2 separate regions of the Homo sapiens genome follow, and region 1 is linked to region 2. The links come from fine-mapping of genetic effects on gene expression. Tissue or cell type: whole blood. Region 2 holds a variant in brackets; the other region holds the start of a gene. All regions are shown on one strand. Distances are from middle to middle.

Region 1 (8,101 bases), 110 kb before region 2:
GTGGCTCACGCCTGCAATCCTAGCACTTTGGGAGGCCAAGGCAGGCGGATTGGCTGAGCTCAGGAGTTCGAGACCAGCCTGGGCAACACAGTGAAACCCGATCTCTACTAAAATACAAAAGAAATTAGCCAGGTGTGGCAGTATGCGCCTGTAGTCCTGGGGGTGCTGAGGCAGGAGAATTGCTTGAACCCAGGAGGCGGAGGTTGCAGTGAGCCGAGATGGTGCCACTGAACTCCAGCCTGGGCGACAGAGCAAGACTCTGTCTCAAAAAAAAAAAACAAAAAAAAGTGAGCAGGGATCACAATGAGCAGATAACAAAGAAACCCAAAACTCTGATAGGCACTTGAGAAGATGCTAGAAATTGTTGGTAACTCATCAGGGAAGTGGAAATTAAAATGACAGCGAGTCCAGGCGCGGTGGCTCTTGCCTGTAATCCTAACACTTTGGGAAGCTGAGGTAGGAGGATCACTTGAGACCAGCAGTTCAATACCAGCCTGGGCAATATAGTAAGACCCCACCTCTATAAAAAATTTAAAAGTTAGTTGGGCGTGGTGGCACAAGCCTGTTGTCCCAGCTGCTCGGGAGGTTGAGGTGGGAGGATCCCTTGAGCCCAGGAGTTCCGGGCAGCAGTGAACCATAATTGCGCCACTGCACCCCAGCCTGGGCAACAAAGTGAGATCTCATCTCTAAAAATAAAATAGAGAAAATAAATTAAAAAACAGTGAGTCACCCTATATAAATCTGGCAAAAATTAGTTAAGTTGGAAATGCCACATGAGGGTTGGGGATATGGGGACCCGGGGACCCTCATGCACTGGTAGTGAGTAGCCATTCCGAGGGCTACCCAGCACTACTTACACAAATGGTGCGCATGGATATGTCACCCAGCAATTAGCTTCTGGGTACGCACAATAAAACATTCTCCCTCAGCTTCCTGGGGGACCAATACACAGATGTTCCCTCCAGCATTATTTCGGGAGAGCTGGAGGCAGCCTGGGTGTCCGCTCCCAGTAGGGGTAGGTGGAAAAACAGAAGGGATCAGTCACCAGAGAATCCTGCAAAGCCACCACTGTCACACACCAGGTGTCCACAGAGCAACAAGGGTAGGTCTTAAAACACATAATGATGACTGACAAAAATAAGAAACACTATTAATATCTTATGATATAATGCTCAATGACACAGAATCATTTTACATTTACATAAAGTTTTAGGGAAAAACAATATTTAATATACAACTATGCGTTGGATAATGTATAACAGATACAACATAGAATTGTATTGTACTGTATAATTATATTAGCCTAAATATATAATTATATAATTATACATTATATAATGCCAAATTATATAATTCCATAATATGACACAAACTTTTGTGCTATTTATTGCAGTTGTGTTAACATCAGTATTTAATTATGGAACACCTAGAAACCTGCTATACCTTGAAGAACGGTTTCTATGTAATTTTGTTTAACTATGGGATATTGTTTTATATAACTTACTGTATACCACTACATGTTAATAAAAAAAATTTTTTTTTTTTTTTTTGAGGTGGAGCCTTGCTCTGTCACCTGGGCTGGAGTGTAGTGGTACAATCTCGGCTCACTACAACCTCTGCCTCCTGGGCTTAAATGATTCTTGTTCCTCAGCCTCCCAAGTAGCTGGGATTAGAGTCGTGTGACACCATGCCCAGCTAATTTCTGTGTTTTTAGTAGAGTCAGAGTTTCACCATGTTGACCAAGCTGGTCTCAAATTCCTGGCTTCAAGTGATCTGTCTGCCTTGGCCTCCCAACGTGCTGGGATTACAGGCATGAGCCACTGTGTCTGGCCTAGTAATAATTTTAATAGGGCTGGACGTGGTGGTTTACACCTGTAATCCCAGCACTTTGGGAGGCTGAGGTGGGCGAATCATGAGGTCAGGAGTTCGAGACCAGCCTGGCCAACATGGTGAAACCCCGTCTCTACCAAAAATACAAAAATTAGCCGGGTGTGTTGGCAGGTGCCTGTAATCCCAGCTACTCAGGAGGCTGAGGAGGAGAATCGTTTGAACCTGGGAGGTGGAGGTTGCAGTGAGTCAAGATCTTGCCACTGCACTCCAGTCTGGGCAACAAGAGCAAGAGTCCGTCTCAAAATAAATAAATAAATAAATAAATAATAATAATAGCAACACTTACATTACATTAACCAGGCACTGGCACTGTTTTAAGTTTTATCTCATTTAATTAATTATCTCATTTAACTCTCCCAACAACCACGTGAGGTCGGTACTATTAATATTCCCCTTACTGGATGGGGAAACCGAGGCACAGAGAAGCTAAGTGGCTTATCCATGTAACTCAAGGAAGTGGCAAGGCTGGGTGGGATTCAGATCCAGATTATCTGGCTTGGAGTCGGAGTCCTTGTTCTTTTTTTTTTTTTTTTCAGACGAAGTCTCGCCCAGGCTGGAGTGCAGTGGCTCAATCTCGGCTCACTGCAGCTTCTGCCTCCCGAATTCAAGGAGTTCAAGCAATTCTCCTGCCTCAGTTTCCCAAGTGGCTGGGATTACAAGCATGTGTCACCACGCCTGGCTAATTTTTGTACTTTTAGTAGAGACGGGGGTTTCACCATGTTGGCCAGGCTGGCCTCGAACTCCTGACCTCAAGTGATCCACCCACCTCGGCGTCCCAAAGTGCTGAGATTACAGGGGTGAGCCACCACTCCCGGCCGGAGTCCTTGTTCTTAATCACTATGTTTGGTGCTTTTTAAAGTCAGGAGATCTGGTGCACATCCCTGCTCTGCTGCGTGATATCTTGCAAGAACTTCCCCACTCAGAGCCTCAGTCTGCCCTCTGTGAAATGGGAGAATGATGGCACGTTACTTACCGTGGTGGGGAGAAAGCGCAGGTACCTCCTAGATACTCTCTCTCCCACCCCACCTCCGGCGGCCAACGGCCAAGCAAACCTCCAGCCAAGATTTGGGGTATGTGGGCAGGGCTCCGGCGAAGGGGAGTGGCCGGGGAGTCCTGGTCCAATGGGGCCCGGGGGCGGGGACTTCCTCCCATCTCTGTCCAGCATGCGTGTACTCCTCGCAGTTCCATCTACCTCGCGGGTGCCTCTGGTGTCTCCAGAGGTCTCCGACCCCAGCCCGCCCCCAGCCCTCCCGCCCAGCCCGCAGCCCCCTCCCTCTGTTCCCCGACCTCAGACCCTGGGCTTCCGACCTCGACATCATGGGTGACGCAGAAGGCGAAGACGAGGTCCAGTTCCTGCGGACGGTGCGTATCTCTGGGTTAGGGGCCTGTGGGGCTATCTCTTGGGGCTCTCTGAGGGTCTCTCTGTCTCTGAATGTCCCTGTCCGGCTTGCTGGTGGTCTCTGAGACTCGAGGTCTCTTCCTATGTCACTTTGAGTGACTGTCACTCTGTCTTTTAGTCTCCTTCACCTTTCTCACTACAGAGAATTAGTAGGATTGGGGACTCCAGAATGGGAAAGGGATCTTCGGTTGCCCTCTCTTCTGACTTTAGCGATTTGTCCCCCACAAGAAGGACCCCCGAGGGAGCACACCCTCACACCATCTTGGAAGCAGGCACTTGGGGAAGGTGGTTCTAATTCCTGGGCTTGATTTAGCCATCCCCCCACCCCCACCTTAGCCCTAATTCTCTTTTTGCTCCAGACTCTGACCTATTTAAATTCTTGAGAAGGGAGCTGGAGTGAGCTGGAGGACACAGCTGCTTCCAACTCCTAGCCCTTGAGGGTCTTGTGGGGGAGGGATCTCTTGGGTTCTGGGTCTTTCTTTCCTTCTTCGTTTTGGGCAGGAGGGCTGCTCCCAATGGCTGCTAATGGTCTTGCAGGGTCTCTGGGTGGTGTCTCTCCCCATCTGTCTCTTTGGGTGTCTCCATGTCTCTGTCTCTTCCTCCATCTCAGTCTCCCTGTCTCTGTTTCTTAGCTTAAGGCCCTCTGATTTTCGCTGTCTCTCTAGCTGGGTTACTCCCTGCATCTGAGCCCCAGCTGGGGGCAGGGATGGGAATTGGAACAACAGGTGTCCCTCCCAGAATAGCCGGCTTTTCTGGGGCCTGGGCAGGGGATGGGGAGGGGATGAGAGGGAGGAGGGGCTGCCATCTCCTTGTCCTTCCCATCTTCCCCTCCCAGTGGCTCCGCAGGGTGTGGGGTCGTAAATATGGGAGGGGACGTCCTCTCCTCTGGGCTAGGTCTGCTGACCAGACGCTAGCCCCGCCCCTCCCCCCGGGGCCCTGGAGCCACACAGGAAATGCTGACACAGCATTCCTGCCCCAGAATAGGACCCTGGCGAGCCGGGTCCGGTTTCCTGGGAGAGAGGAACAAACAGCTGGGGCTGGTAGTGAAGGATGGGGACAGCTGGGAAGGGGCCTAGCTTCAGCCGAGACTCTCTCCCCAGCCCCAGCCCCTCAGCAGACACCATGGGTCGGGCCCTCCCCAGCCCTAATAAGACCATGGCCATGGCCACTGGCTCTTGAGCTGTCGCTCTAAACCAGGCCCTGTGCCCTGGGCCTCTGCCTCCTGAGACATCTAATTATATCCTTGCTGCCCTGTCTTCTGAGGTAGGGTCCTATCTTTATCTCCCTGACAGATTTGAGGGAAACCAAGGCCCGAATGGTAGAATCACTCACCCAAGGTCAAGGCCAGGAAGTGGCATCTCTGGATGCCCCTGGTGCCCAGCCCCATTGCCTTCACCAGAGAAAATCTGGGCCCAGACTTGCCAAAGTAGTCAGCGTTAGGGTTCTGGAGGCTTGGCCCTGGAATCTCTCCACCCCAGACTGGGTCAGTTTTTCTGATTGTTACTGAGGTCGTGGTGGATTTCTCAAAACTTTCTGGAGGCTGGGCTCAGTGGCTCATGCCTGTAATCTCAGCACTTTGGGAGGCCAAGGTGAGCGGATCACTTGAGGTCAGGAGTTTGAGACCAGCCTGGCCAACATGGTGAAACCCCGTCTCTACTAAAAATACAAAAAAATATTAGCCAGGCGTGGTGGTGCATGCCTGTAATCTTAGCTACTCGGGAGGCTGAAGTGGGAGGATTGCTTGAACCTGGGAGGCAGAGGTTGCAGTGAGCCGAGATTGCGCCACTGCACACTCCAGCCTGGGCGACAGGGCGAGACTCCATCTCAGAACAAAAAACCTTCTGGACCACATCCCGCCCATAAGAAACATTCTGTCTTACAACTCAGTACATGCACACATGCATAGACATGACTAAAAACCAACTTTATTGAGGTATAATTGACCTGCAATAAATTTTACCCAGTTTATGTGTTCAATGAGTTGTTTTGTTTTTGTTTATTTATTTATTTTTTTGAGATGGAGTTTCACTCTTGTTGCCCAGACTGGAGTGCAATGGCGTGATCGCAGCTCACTGCAACCTCTGCCTCCTGGGTTCAAGCGATTCTTCTGCCTCAGCCTCCTGAGTAGCTGGGATTACAGGCGCGTGCCACCAAGCCGAGCTAATTTTTTGTATTTTTAGTAGAGATGGGGTTTCACCATGTTGGCCAGGCTGGTCTTGAACTCCTGACCTCAGATGATCCACCCATCTTGGCCTCCCAAGGTGCTGGGATTACAGGTGTGAGCCACCACGCCCGGCCTTTTTTTTTCTTTTTGAGACAGAGTCTCAATCTGTTGCCCAGGCTGGAGTACAGCAGTTTGGTGGTTGGTTCAACGCAACCTCCACTTCCCAGGCTCCAGTGATCCTCCCACCTCAGCCTCCTGAGTAGCTGGGACTACACGTGCATAGCACCATGCTTGGCTAATTTGTAAAATTTTTTGTAGAGGTGAGGTCTCACTATATTGCCCAGGCTGGTGTCAAACTCCTGGGCTCAAGAAATCCTCCGGCCTTGGCCTCCCAAAGTTTTGGGATTACAGGCATAAGCCACCATGCCCGGCCTTTCTTCTTTCACTCAGCATAATATTTTTGACATTCATCCATGTAGCATGTATTGAGTTTGTTGCTTTTTGTTGCCGAATATTATTCCATTGTGCGACTATACTGTGGTGTGTTTATCAGTTCACCTGCTGATGGACATTTGAGTCGTCTCCAATTTTTACTATTATAGACAACACAGGGCCTGTGACCATTCACTTGTACCTATTTTTAACTGAAACAAGTCTCATAAAATGTAGATGGCCCCTGAAGCATGATGGGCACGCTGTGATTTTCTATTCTTGCTCCATTTTGCTTCGTTTGGTTAAGTATGATGGCCACAGCCCCCCCAAACTGATTTCACTTCCCTTTGGTGGGTGGTGACCTCTACCCTTACCCAGGCTGGGGTTTCTCAAACCCTGGCCCAAGTTAGAAGCTCCTGGGGTCTGGTAAACAGTACGTATTCCCTGCTGACCCCAAATCAGGCTCTTGATGGTGGTAGGGGACTGGGCCAGCAGGGAAGCTATATTTTTAACCAGAACCCTCCGCTTCCTTCATTTTTTTTTTCTTTTTCTTTTTTTTTTAAGATGGAGTCTTCCTTTGTAGCCCAGGCTGGAGTGCAATGGCACAATCTCGGCTCACTGCAACCTCCGCCTCCTGGGTTCAAGCGATTCTCCTGTCTCAGCCTCCCGAGTAGCTGGGATTACAGGCATGCACCACTACGCCCGGCTAATTTTTGTACTTTTAATAGAGATGGGGTTTCACCATGTTGGCCAGGCTGGTCTCGAACTCCTGACCTCAAGTGATGCGCCCACCTTGGCCTCCCAAAGTGCTGGGATTACAGGAATGAGCCACCTCGCCCAGCCTGCCTTCATTCTAATTCAGGAAAAGTTTGAGAATCAATGTGGTAATGATTGGGCTCTCTGTCGCTGCTTTGCACTCTGGCTTTGCCATTTGCCTGCTTCCTAATTTGGGGCAAGTGATTTTTATTTTTCTCTCTGAGCCTCAGTGTTCTCATCTGGAAAATGGGGACAAGATTATATACAATAGCCAGACCCCATGGCTCACACCTGTAATCCCTTCGCTTTGGGAGGCTGAAGCAGGACGATTGCTTGAGGCCGGGAGTTCAAAAACAGCCTGGGCAACATAGGGAGACCTTGTCTTTACAAAAAATGTTAAACTTTAGCTGGGCGTGGCAGTGTGCACCTGTAGTACCAGCTACTTGGGAGGCTGAGGTGGGAAGATCACTTGAAACCAGGAGTCGGAAGCTGCAGTGAGCTGTGATCTCGCCACTGCACTCCAGTCTGGGCAACAGAGCAAGACCCTGTGTCTACAAAAATATATATATCTTAAATTAGCTGGGTGTGGTGGCATGAGCCTGCAGTCATAGCTTCTCAGGAGGCTGAATGGAGAGGATCACTCAGCCTAGGAGTCCAAGGCTGCAGTGAGCTATGATCGTACCACTGCACTCCACCCCAGGAGACAGAGTGAGACCCAGTCTCTTAAAAAAAAAAAAAAAGTTATTTTTCAAGGGGCCCATGCAAGTATCTCTCTGACCTCATCTCCTCCCTGTTTGCCCCTCCTCCTTGCGGCCACCATCCTGCTCCATCTCCTGTGCTGTCCCTCAACACCCCAGCACCCAGACTCCCTCCTCTTACCCCAGAGATGAGCAGGCCTGATTCCTTCTTGTTATTTGGACAAGGCTCAACTCAAATGTCACCTCCTTGGAGAGGCTGTCACTTCACTCCCTCACTGATCTCATCCCCATCCTAAAAGCCACTCTCTTACATCAGCCTGGGTTATTTTTTCTATAACACCTATCACTGACATTAACATTACATATTAATTCACCTGTTTATTCCCTGTCTCCACCATGAGGATTTAAGCTCCCTGAGGGCCGTGATTTTTTTTTTTTCCTTTTGAGACATGGTCTCAATCTGTCTCAGGGGCCCCAGGGAGGTGGGGCTTGATTATGACTCACTGCAGCCTCGATTTCCCAGGCTTGGCAGTCCTCCCACCTCAGCCTCCCGAGTAGCAGGGACTACAGGAACATACCACCATGCTCGGCTAATTTTTAATTTTTAACTTTTGTAGAGATGGGGGTCTCATTATGTATATTGCCCAGGCTAGTCTTTTTTTTTTTTTTTTTTTTGAGATGGAGTCTCGCTCTGTCACCCAGGCTCGAGTTCAGTGGTGCGATCTCGGCTCACTACAAGCTCCGCCTCCCAGGTTCACACCA
Region 2 (8,101 bases):
AGCAATTCTCCTGCCTCAGCCTCCCAGGTAGCTGGGATTACAGGCACATGCCACCACACCTGGCTAATTTTGTATTTTTTTTAGTAGAGACGGGATTTCACCATGTTGGCCAGGCTGGTCTCAAACTCCTGACCTCAAGTGATCCACCCACCTGGGCCTCCCAAAGTGCTGGGATTACAGGTGTGAGCCACCGCTCCCAGCCTATTTTAAAATTATTTATTTATTTATTTATTTATTTTTGAGACGGGGTTTCCATCTTGTTGCCCAGGCTGGACTGCAATGGTGAGATCTCCACTCACTGCAACCTCTGCCTCCGGGGTTGAAGCGATTCTCCTGCCTCAGCCTCCCAAGTAGTTAGGATTGCAGGTGCCCACCACCACACCCAGCTAATTTTTGTATTTTTAGTAGAGACGGGGTTTCACCATGTTGGTCAGGCTGGTCTCAAACTCCTGACCTCAGGTGATCTGCCTGCCTGGGCCTCCCAAAGTGCTGGAATTACAGGCGTGAGCCACCCGGCCAGTATTTTTAGACAAATGAATAAATGATCATCCATCTTTCTCTGTCACATAGTAAGTACTTGATAGTTATTAAATAAATTGATGATGATATGCTTTCTGGCATACAATAGGAACTCAACACATGAGTATTGCATAAATGAATAAATGACCCACTGTTCATCTCCCCTAGCACATGGGAGGTGCTGGATAAATGACTTTTCATCTCCCCAGATTTCCAGAACTACCTACGGACACAGACAGGGAACACGACCACTATTAACATCATCATTTGCACTGTGGACTACCTCCTGCGGCTGCAGGTGAGGACGTGAGACGGTTCAGGTGTGACTTGGGTCGGGGGCTGCAGGGCCATGGTCGGCCCCAGCACCCCCTCACACCCTACCCGCCCCCACCAGGAATCCATCAGCGACTTCTACTGGTACTACTCGGGCAAGGATGTCATTGAAGAGCAGGGCAAGAGGAACTTCTCCAAAGCCATGTCGGTGGCTAAGCAGGTGTTCAACAGCCTCACTGAGTACATCCAGGTAGGGCGCTCCCCCTGGGGCGGGAGTGGGAAGGGAGGGGGTCCCGCATCGTGATCCCTGATCCCTTCTCGGGGATTCCCTTCCCCCCCACACGGCACTCTGCCTCCCAGGGTCCCTGCACCGGGAACCAGCAGAGCCTGGCGCACAGTCGCCTATGGGACGCAGTGGTGGGATTCCTGCACGTGTTCGCCCACATGATGATGAAGCTCGCTCAGGTTCGAGCCCCTCTGGTCTCCATCCACCTGCTTCCGGGCGTCCCCCAAGTGGTCCATTTCCAAGTCTTGCCCCTTTGGTCAGTTTGTCACCCGAGTGCTCCCGGCATGTTCCAGACTGGTTCCCTCTCAGTGGCCAAATCCATCCTCTTTCTGGATTGGCTGTCTGCATGACCCCGCCTCCTCCTCTGCCCCTCCCTCCCCACCAATCAGCTGGTTTTCCATCCACGCTTCCATTGGTCTGACGTGTTGGCCCCGTCCCAATGGCCGGAGCTCCTCTATGATTGATTGCTGTTTTTCTCTCTGATGAGTCATCGCAGATGTGGACAGTCCTTGGGCTAGGATGGGGCTGGTTTCTAGATTAGAGCCTGGGGCTGAGGAAATGTTTTGCTTCTTTATCTTACTTGCGGCAGATGACACCCATATCAGGCATTCATGATGTAAGGTCCCTGTTGAGCACCACCTTCCATTTCCATAATCCTTGTTCCTCTTTCCCTCACCCCTTTGCAGCCTTGCCAATGTCTCACGAACACTTAATCCATTTGCTCTGCTTCTGTCTGGTAACTATATTCAAGGCTGCCATATACTGTTCCGCAGGTCGTGCACTGCACAAAGGCACGATCTCTGAGAGCATTCACATCCTACACATAATGGTGTATTTATTACAATAGTTTAGTTTTCCAGCAGATGGCAGTAAAGCATCCAGCATGTTATAACTTCCCTACAGGAAGTGTTTTAGGGGACGCCTTTTTTTCTAATTTGCTCAAAGGTGCCCCAGGGGCTGGCAGAAACCCTAATTCGTTGTCATCTGACTTTTTAAAAGGAGTTAAACTTAGAATGCAATTCCTCCGTGTCACAGCAGCTGAAGTTGTGCTGTTGGTATCCTAAAATTCTAGAGAGTGTTGGTATCATCATGTAGAATTCCAAATCCTGCAGGGCTAATTCATCCGCCACCATCTAGTCTAGGTTGCAAAAGCTAGAAATCCAGTGCAAAGTGGTGGCTTAAGAAAAATAAAGAATTTATCAGTTCATATTACAGATCCAGGGCTTAGAGTGATGTCAGCAGAACTGCCTCCTCTTTGACTGCATTTGCAAGCAGGCTGTCTCCCTGGGCTGGAAAAAATGGTGCCTCAGGCTCCTATCCACTCTACTTCTTAACAGCCCTAGAGGGAAGAGATCTCCTCTTTCCTGAAAGCTCCAAGAAAAAAAAAAACCTGAGATTCTCTCTGACTAGCCTATTGGGTCACATGTCCCTCCCTGAACCAATCATCATAGGCTTAGGAAAGAAAGCTTTGACTGACCAGGCCCGGTCATATACCCACCTATAGAACCAGGAGGTAGGGTTAGCCCCATGTGCTCTGACTGTGGGATGGGGGACTCCGCAGGTGAAAATTGAGGGATTGTAAAGAGAGGAGGGGGACTGAATCATGGGTAGGCACAAACCACAGGCGCCCACCCACTGTAAGATCTTGAGATTAGGAGTGTCGGGACCTTAGGCGCAGAATGCAGAGCTTTGGAACTGTGGAAATACATTAGGATTGGAATCAACAACTGATAGAACTAGCATGGGAGCAAAAGATCCTTACATCCCATTTATCTGGTATCATCTCCTCCCCTCTCCATTTTATTTGGTGGAACCATATGAAATTACCACTTTGGATCTGGCACGGTGGCTCATACCTGTAATCCCAGCACTCTGGGAGCCCTAGGCGGGCAGATCACCTGAGGTCAGGAGTTCGAGACCAGCCTCACCAACATGGAGAAACCCCATCTCTGTTAAAAGTAAAAAATTAGCTGGGTATGGTGGCGCATGCCTGTAATCCAGCTACTCGAGAGGCTTAGGCAGGGGAATTGCTTGAACCTGGGAGGCAGAAGTTGCAGTGAGCCGAGATTGCGCCATTAC[A/C]TTCCGGCCTGGGCAACAAGAGCAAAACTCTGTCTCAAAAAGAAAGAAATTACCACTTTGTGAGCCAAAAGTGATCACATGTTGGCAATTTTATGTGACTCAACCTAACATAAATAGGGGCCATGAGGCAAAACTTTGTATTGGAGGTTTCTATGGGCCCTACACTGTGGCCCTATGTTCCCCGCAGACGGCTTACCAGAAAGCACATGGCTGTCTCTGCAGCCTTCCTCCTGAACCCAGAGTCCCACTCTTGCCATCACACATTATATTCAACATACATCTGTCAATCCCACCGTAGGCCAGGCACAGTGCTGGGCTCACATCCCTTCCTAGACCTGGGTCTCTGTCCCCAGTGTTTGTCTCTGTCTGTCTCTGTCTCTCTCTGCCCCAAATGTCTGCCCCGCAAGCCTCTCAGTCCTCCTTGTCTGCCAGCCTTCCCACTACCCATCACCTATCGAGCCCGTCCCCCAAGTGCCAACCCCACCCCCACAATCTTGTCTCTCTGCCCCTTCCCCTGCTTCCGAGGAACATGTCTGGACTCGGGTCCCCTCGGAGGTAAGAGGGGAGAAAACGGGTTTAGGCCCTGCTGGGTAGGTGAGGAGGGGGAGAAGCAACAGAGGTGGGGGAGGTGTATGCTGAGACCAGCCCTCACCGAGCTGGGATCTCTAGGACTCAAGCCAGATCGAGCTGCTGAAGGAGCTGCTGGATCTGCAGAAGGACATGGTGGTGATGTTGCTGTCGCTACTAGAAGGTAAACACCCAGGAGTGAGGGTGAGGGAACAGTAAAGAGGTTCAGAGAAGCCTGAGAATGGCCCCCTGAGACCCGGGAGACCCTAATCCTCAACCCCATCTGACATCGTGTCAGGATCCATGGGTTGATGAAGAAGCCATAATAGGCCAGATGCGGTGGCTACACCTGTAATCCCAGCACTTTGGGAGGCCGAGGTGGGAAGATCACCTGAAGTCAGGAGTTTGAGACCAGCCTGGGCAACATGGTGAGACCCTGTCTCTACTAAAAATACAAAAATTAGCCTAGTGTGGTGGTGTGTGCCTGTAGACCCAGCTACTCGGGAGGCTGAGGTGGGAGGATCACCAGAGCCCGGGAGGTCCAGGCTGCAGTGAGCTGTGATCACACCACTGCACTCCAGCCTGGGTGACAGAGCAAGACCCTGTCTCAAAAAAACAAACCCCAAAAACAAACCAAATGTCCAAATGTGGCAAAAGATAAACAATTGATGAATGTGGATATATTAGGATCCCTTTTTTTTTTTTTTCTTTTCTGAGACGGAGTCTCGCTCTGCCGCTCAGGCTGGAGGTGCGGTGGCGCGATCTCGGCTCACTGCAAGCTCCGCCTCCCAGGTTCACGCCATTCTCCTGCTTGGCCTCCCCGGTAGCTGGGACTACAGGCGCCCGCCACCACACCTGGCTAATTTTTTTTTTTTTTTTTTTGTATTTTTAGTAGAGACGGGGTTTCACCATGTTGGTCAGGATGGTCTGGATCTCCTGACTTCGTGATCCTCCCGCCTCAGCCTCCCAAAGTGCTGGGATTACAGACTTGAGCCACTGCGCCCAGCCTACATTAAAATTTAAAAATTACAAAAATAAACTGGAGCCAAGCTTCAGCTGCTGCCTTTAGAGGGAGTGTGGGATCGCAGTTTGCCAATCTCTACCTCTCCTTGCTGCTTACCACTGGCTAGCCTCAGTCTTCTGTGGACCCTCCTGACTGTGTGTACTGGTGGAAGTTTTAGTTGTGTAAGCCCTGAGGTCATGCAGCTCTGAGTTCAAATCCATTCTCCCCACTTTACTGGCTATGTAACTTTGAGTGCATGACTTTCTCTATGTCTCAGTTTCTCTTCCTAAAAGTAGAGTCACACACTTCCCTTTTTGTGTGATTGTGCCAGGGTAGCATTTGGCACCTACCTTTAGCGTACATCATCATTATCTTTTTTTTTTTTTTTGAGACAGAGTCTCACTCCATCACCCAGGCTGGAGTGCAGTGGCACGATCTCGGCTCTGCAACCTCCGCCTCCCAGGTTCAAGCAATTCTCGTGCCTCAGCCTCCCAAGTAGCTGGAAATACAAGCACATGCCACCACGCCCAGCTGATTTTGTATTTTTAATAGAGACGGGGTTTCACCATGTTGGCCAGGCTGGTCTCAAACTCCTGGCCTCAAGTGATCCACCCACCTCGGTCTCCCAAAGTGCTGGGATTACAGGCGTGAGCCACCACGTCCGACCTGACATCATTAGCTTTACTGGGGGAGGTGGGCAAAGGCAGGATCAGCCAGGTTGGCACAGGAGGCTGACGCAGGTCAGGAAGGGACCTGTGGAGGGGAGGCTGTGGCTGGCCAGGGACACTCCAGCAGCGTGGTGGCTCCTGGGCTGGAAAGAGAGGCAAGCCTGGTGGGGCCCCAGAAGGGAGTGTTCACCGGCCACACTGACCTGGGGCTGCCTGCAGGGAACGTGGTGAACGGCATGATCGCCCGGCAGATGGTGGACATGCTCGTGGAATCCTCATCCAATGTGGAGATGATCCTCAAGTTCTTCGACATGTTCCTGAAACTCAAGGACATTGTGGGCTCTGAAGCCTTCCAGGACTACGTAACGGATCCCCGTGGCCTCATCTCCAAGAAGGACTTCCAGAAGGTGGGTGTGGGACATCGTGTGGGCCCAGGACTTGGGTGGGGTTGCCAAGGGCCAGCCATACCCTTCTGGCTGGCTGCCTCAGGCAAGAGACATCTCTGCAAGCCTCACTTTCCTTGTTTGTAAAATGAGGATAAAACAGTCCTTGGGTTATATGTATTCTGTTTTATTTCATTTTAGAGACAAGGTCTTTCTCTGTTGCCCAGGCTGGAGTGCAGTGGCGTGATCATAGCTCACTGCAGCCTTGACCTCCTGGCTTAAGCAATCCTCCCACCTCAGCCTCCTGAGTAGTTGGGACGACGGGTGTGTGACATCATGCCTGGCTAATTTTTAAGTTTATTTTTTGTAGAGATGTGGTCTCACTACATTACCCAGGCTCCTCTTGAACTCTTGGGCTCCAACAATTCTCCTACCTTGGCCTCCCAAAGTGCTGGGATTATAGGCATGAGCCACCTCGCTCAGCCCCCTTGGGTTATTTTGAGGATGAAATGCATTAACACAGATGAGAACCGTTATTACTGTTATCTTTATTGATAGTCATAACATTATCATTATTGTGAATAGGCATCAGTTATTCCATCAATAAACATTGGCTGGCTTTCTTCTCTGTGTAGGGCCTGTAGTGACACTATTGACGCATCAATGACCAAGATAGACACAGCCCGTGCTTTCATGGGTTTATAGTCTAATGGGGGAGGCAGTCACTAACTAGACCATTCCAAGTCTAAATAATGAGCCTGCTAGGAGGGAAGTGCTGGAACATCCTTATTCAGAAACCCACTCCTCCTCCTCTAACCACCTCTCCCATCCTAACTCTCCATCTTTTCTTCTGAGCCTCAGTTTCCTACTCTGTAAAATGGGGATAGGATAATCACATTAACCACTAACTATTGGCAGTGTGCGGTGGTTCATGCCTATAATCCCAGCAATTTGGGAGGCCGAGGTGGGAGGATCGCTTGAGCCCAAGAGTTCGAGATCAGCCTGGGCAACCTAGTGAAACCCTGTATCTATAAAAATAAAAATAAAACAACTATTAACTATTGTGAGGATGGGCAGTGCGGGCAGTACCTGGAATATGGTGAGTCCTCAAGAGATGTTAGCTGCTATTACTACTCCCTGATCTTTAATGTTACCATTTTGTTAACTTTTTATTTTGAAATAACTTCAGGTTTATAGAGACGTTGCAAGAACAGCACATAGAATTTCTGAATACCTTTCACCCACATTGCCCAAATGTTTTCTATTTACTATTTACTCCATCATGATTTCCCTTTCCTTTCCTTTTTTTTTTTTTTTTTTTTTTTTGAGACGGAGTTTTGCTCTTGTTGCCCAGGCTGGAGTGCAGTGGTGCAATCTCAGCTCAGTGCAACCTCCGCCTCCTGGGTTCAAGCGATTCTCCTGCCTCAGCCTCCTGAGTAGCTGGGATTACAGGCACGCACCACCATGCCCAGCTAAATTTGTGTGTGTGTGTGTGTGTGTGTGTGTGTGTGTGTGTGTGTGTGTGTGTGTTGTATTTTTAGTAGAGATGGGATTTCACCATGTTGGCCAGGCTGGTCTTGAACTCCTGGCCTCAAGTGATCTGCCTGCCTCGGCCTCCCAAAGTGCTGGGATTACAAGCATGAACCACCTCGCCTAGCCAATTTCCCTTTACTTTGAAACACTTCAGCGTGTATCTCCTGAGAACAAATTCATTCTCCTACCTAAGCACAGGACAATTATGCTAATCAGGAAATTAACATTGGCACAATGCTGCTATCTAATCCTAGACCTTATTCAGTTTCCCTTGTTGAATAAATTTCTTTCGTCAATGTCTTTTCTTTGCCAACCCAGAACCAGGGATTGTATTTAGGTGTTCTGTCTGTTTTCCTCCTTCAGTCTGGAACTGTGCCTGGGTCTGTCTTTATCTTTCCTGACATGTTTGAAGAACGCAGGCAAACTGTTTTGTAAAATGTCGTTCAGTGTGGGTTTGTCTGAGTTTTCATCATTATCAGACTAGGGTTATGCATCTTTTGCAGGAATATCAGAGAAGTGATGTGTCCTCAGTGTAATGTATTAGGAGGCACATGTGGTTTCATCCCATTACTGTTTATTTTCTTATTTATTTGTTTTTAGAGTCAGAGTCTTGCTCTATTGCCCCGGCTGGAGTGCAGTCAAACAATCCTAGCTCACTGCATCCTTGACCCCCTGGGCTCAGGCGATCCTCCTGCCTCAGCCACCCAAAGTGCTGGGATTACAGGTGTGAGTCACTGCACCTGGCCAATGTCTCTTCCCATTACTGTTGTTAACTTGGATGGCTTGGTTA

The links. PIP is the estimated chance that this variant, and not a neighbour inherited with it, causes the effect.
Region 1: it holds the start of RYR1, and the variant in region 2 is fine-mapped to the expression of RYR1 in whole blood (TOPMed, PIP 0.94).

Annotation. Positions count from the first base shown.
Region 1 is chr19:38,430,623-38,438,723 of GRCh38, forward strand. It overlaps RYR1 (ryanodine receptor 1), which reads left to right and starts at 3,069. Exons shown (of 106, transcript NM_000540.3): 1 at 3,069-3,252. The coding sequence starts at 3,208. RefSeq lists a silencer at 2,952-3,091 and an enhancer at 3,823-4,398.
Region 2 is chr19:38,542,619-38,550,719 of GRCh38, forward strand. It overlaps RYR1 (ryanodine receptor 1), which reads left to right. Exons shown (of 106, transcript NM_000540.3): 85 at 729-817; 86 at 914-1,042; 87 at 1,153-1,257; 88 at 3,827-3,908; 89 at 5,615-5,802. Among named protein-coding and RNA genes, the nearest start is that of MAP4K1-AS1, 50 kb to the right of the region's middle. RefSeq lists enhancers at 1,575-1,634, 1,985-2,074. The variant A/C (reference allele first, on the strand shown) is at 3,158.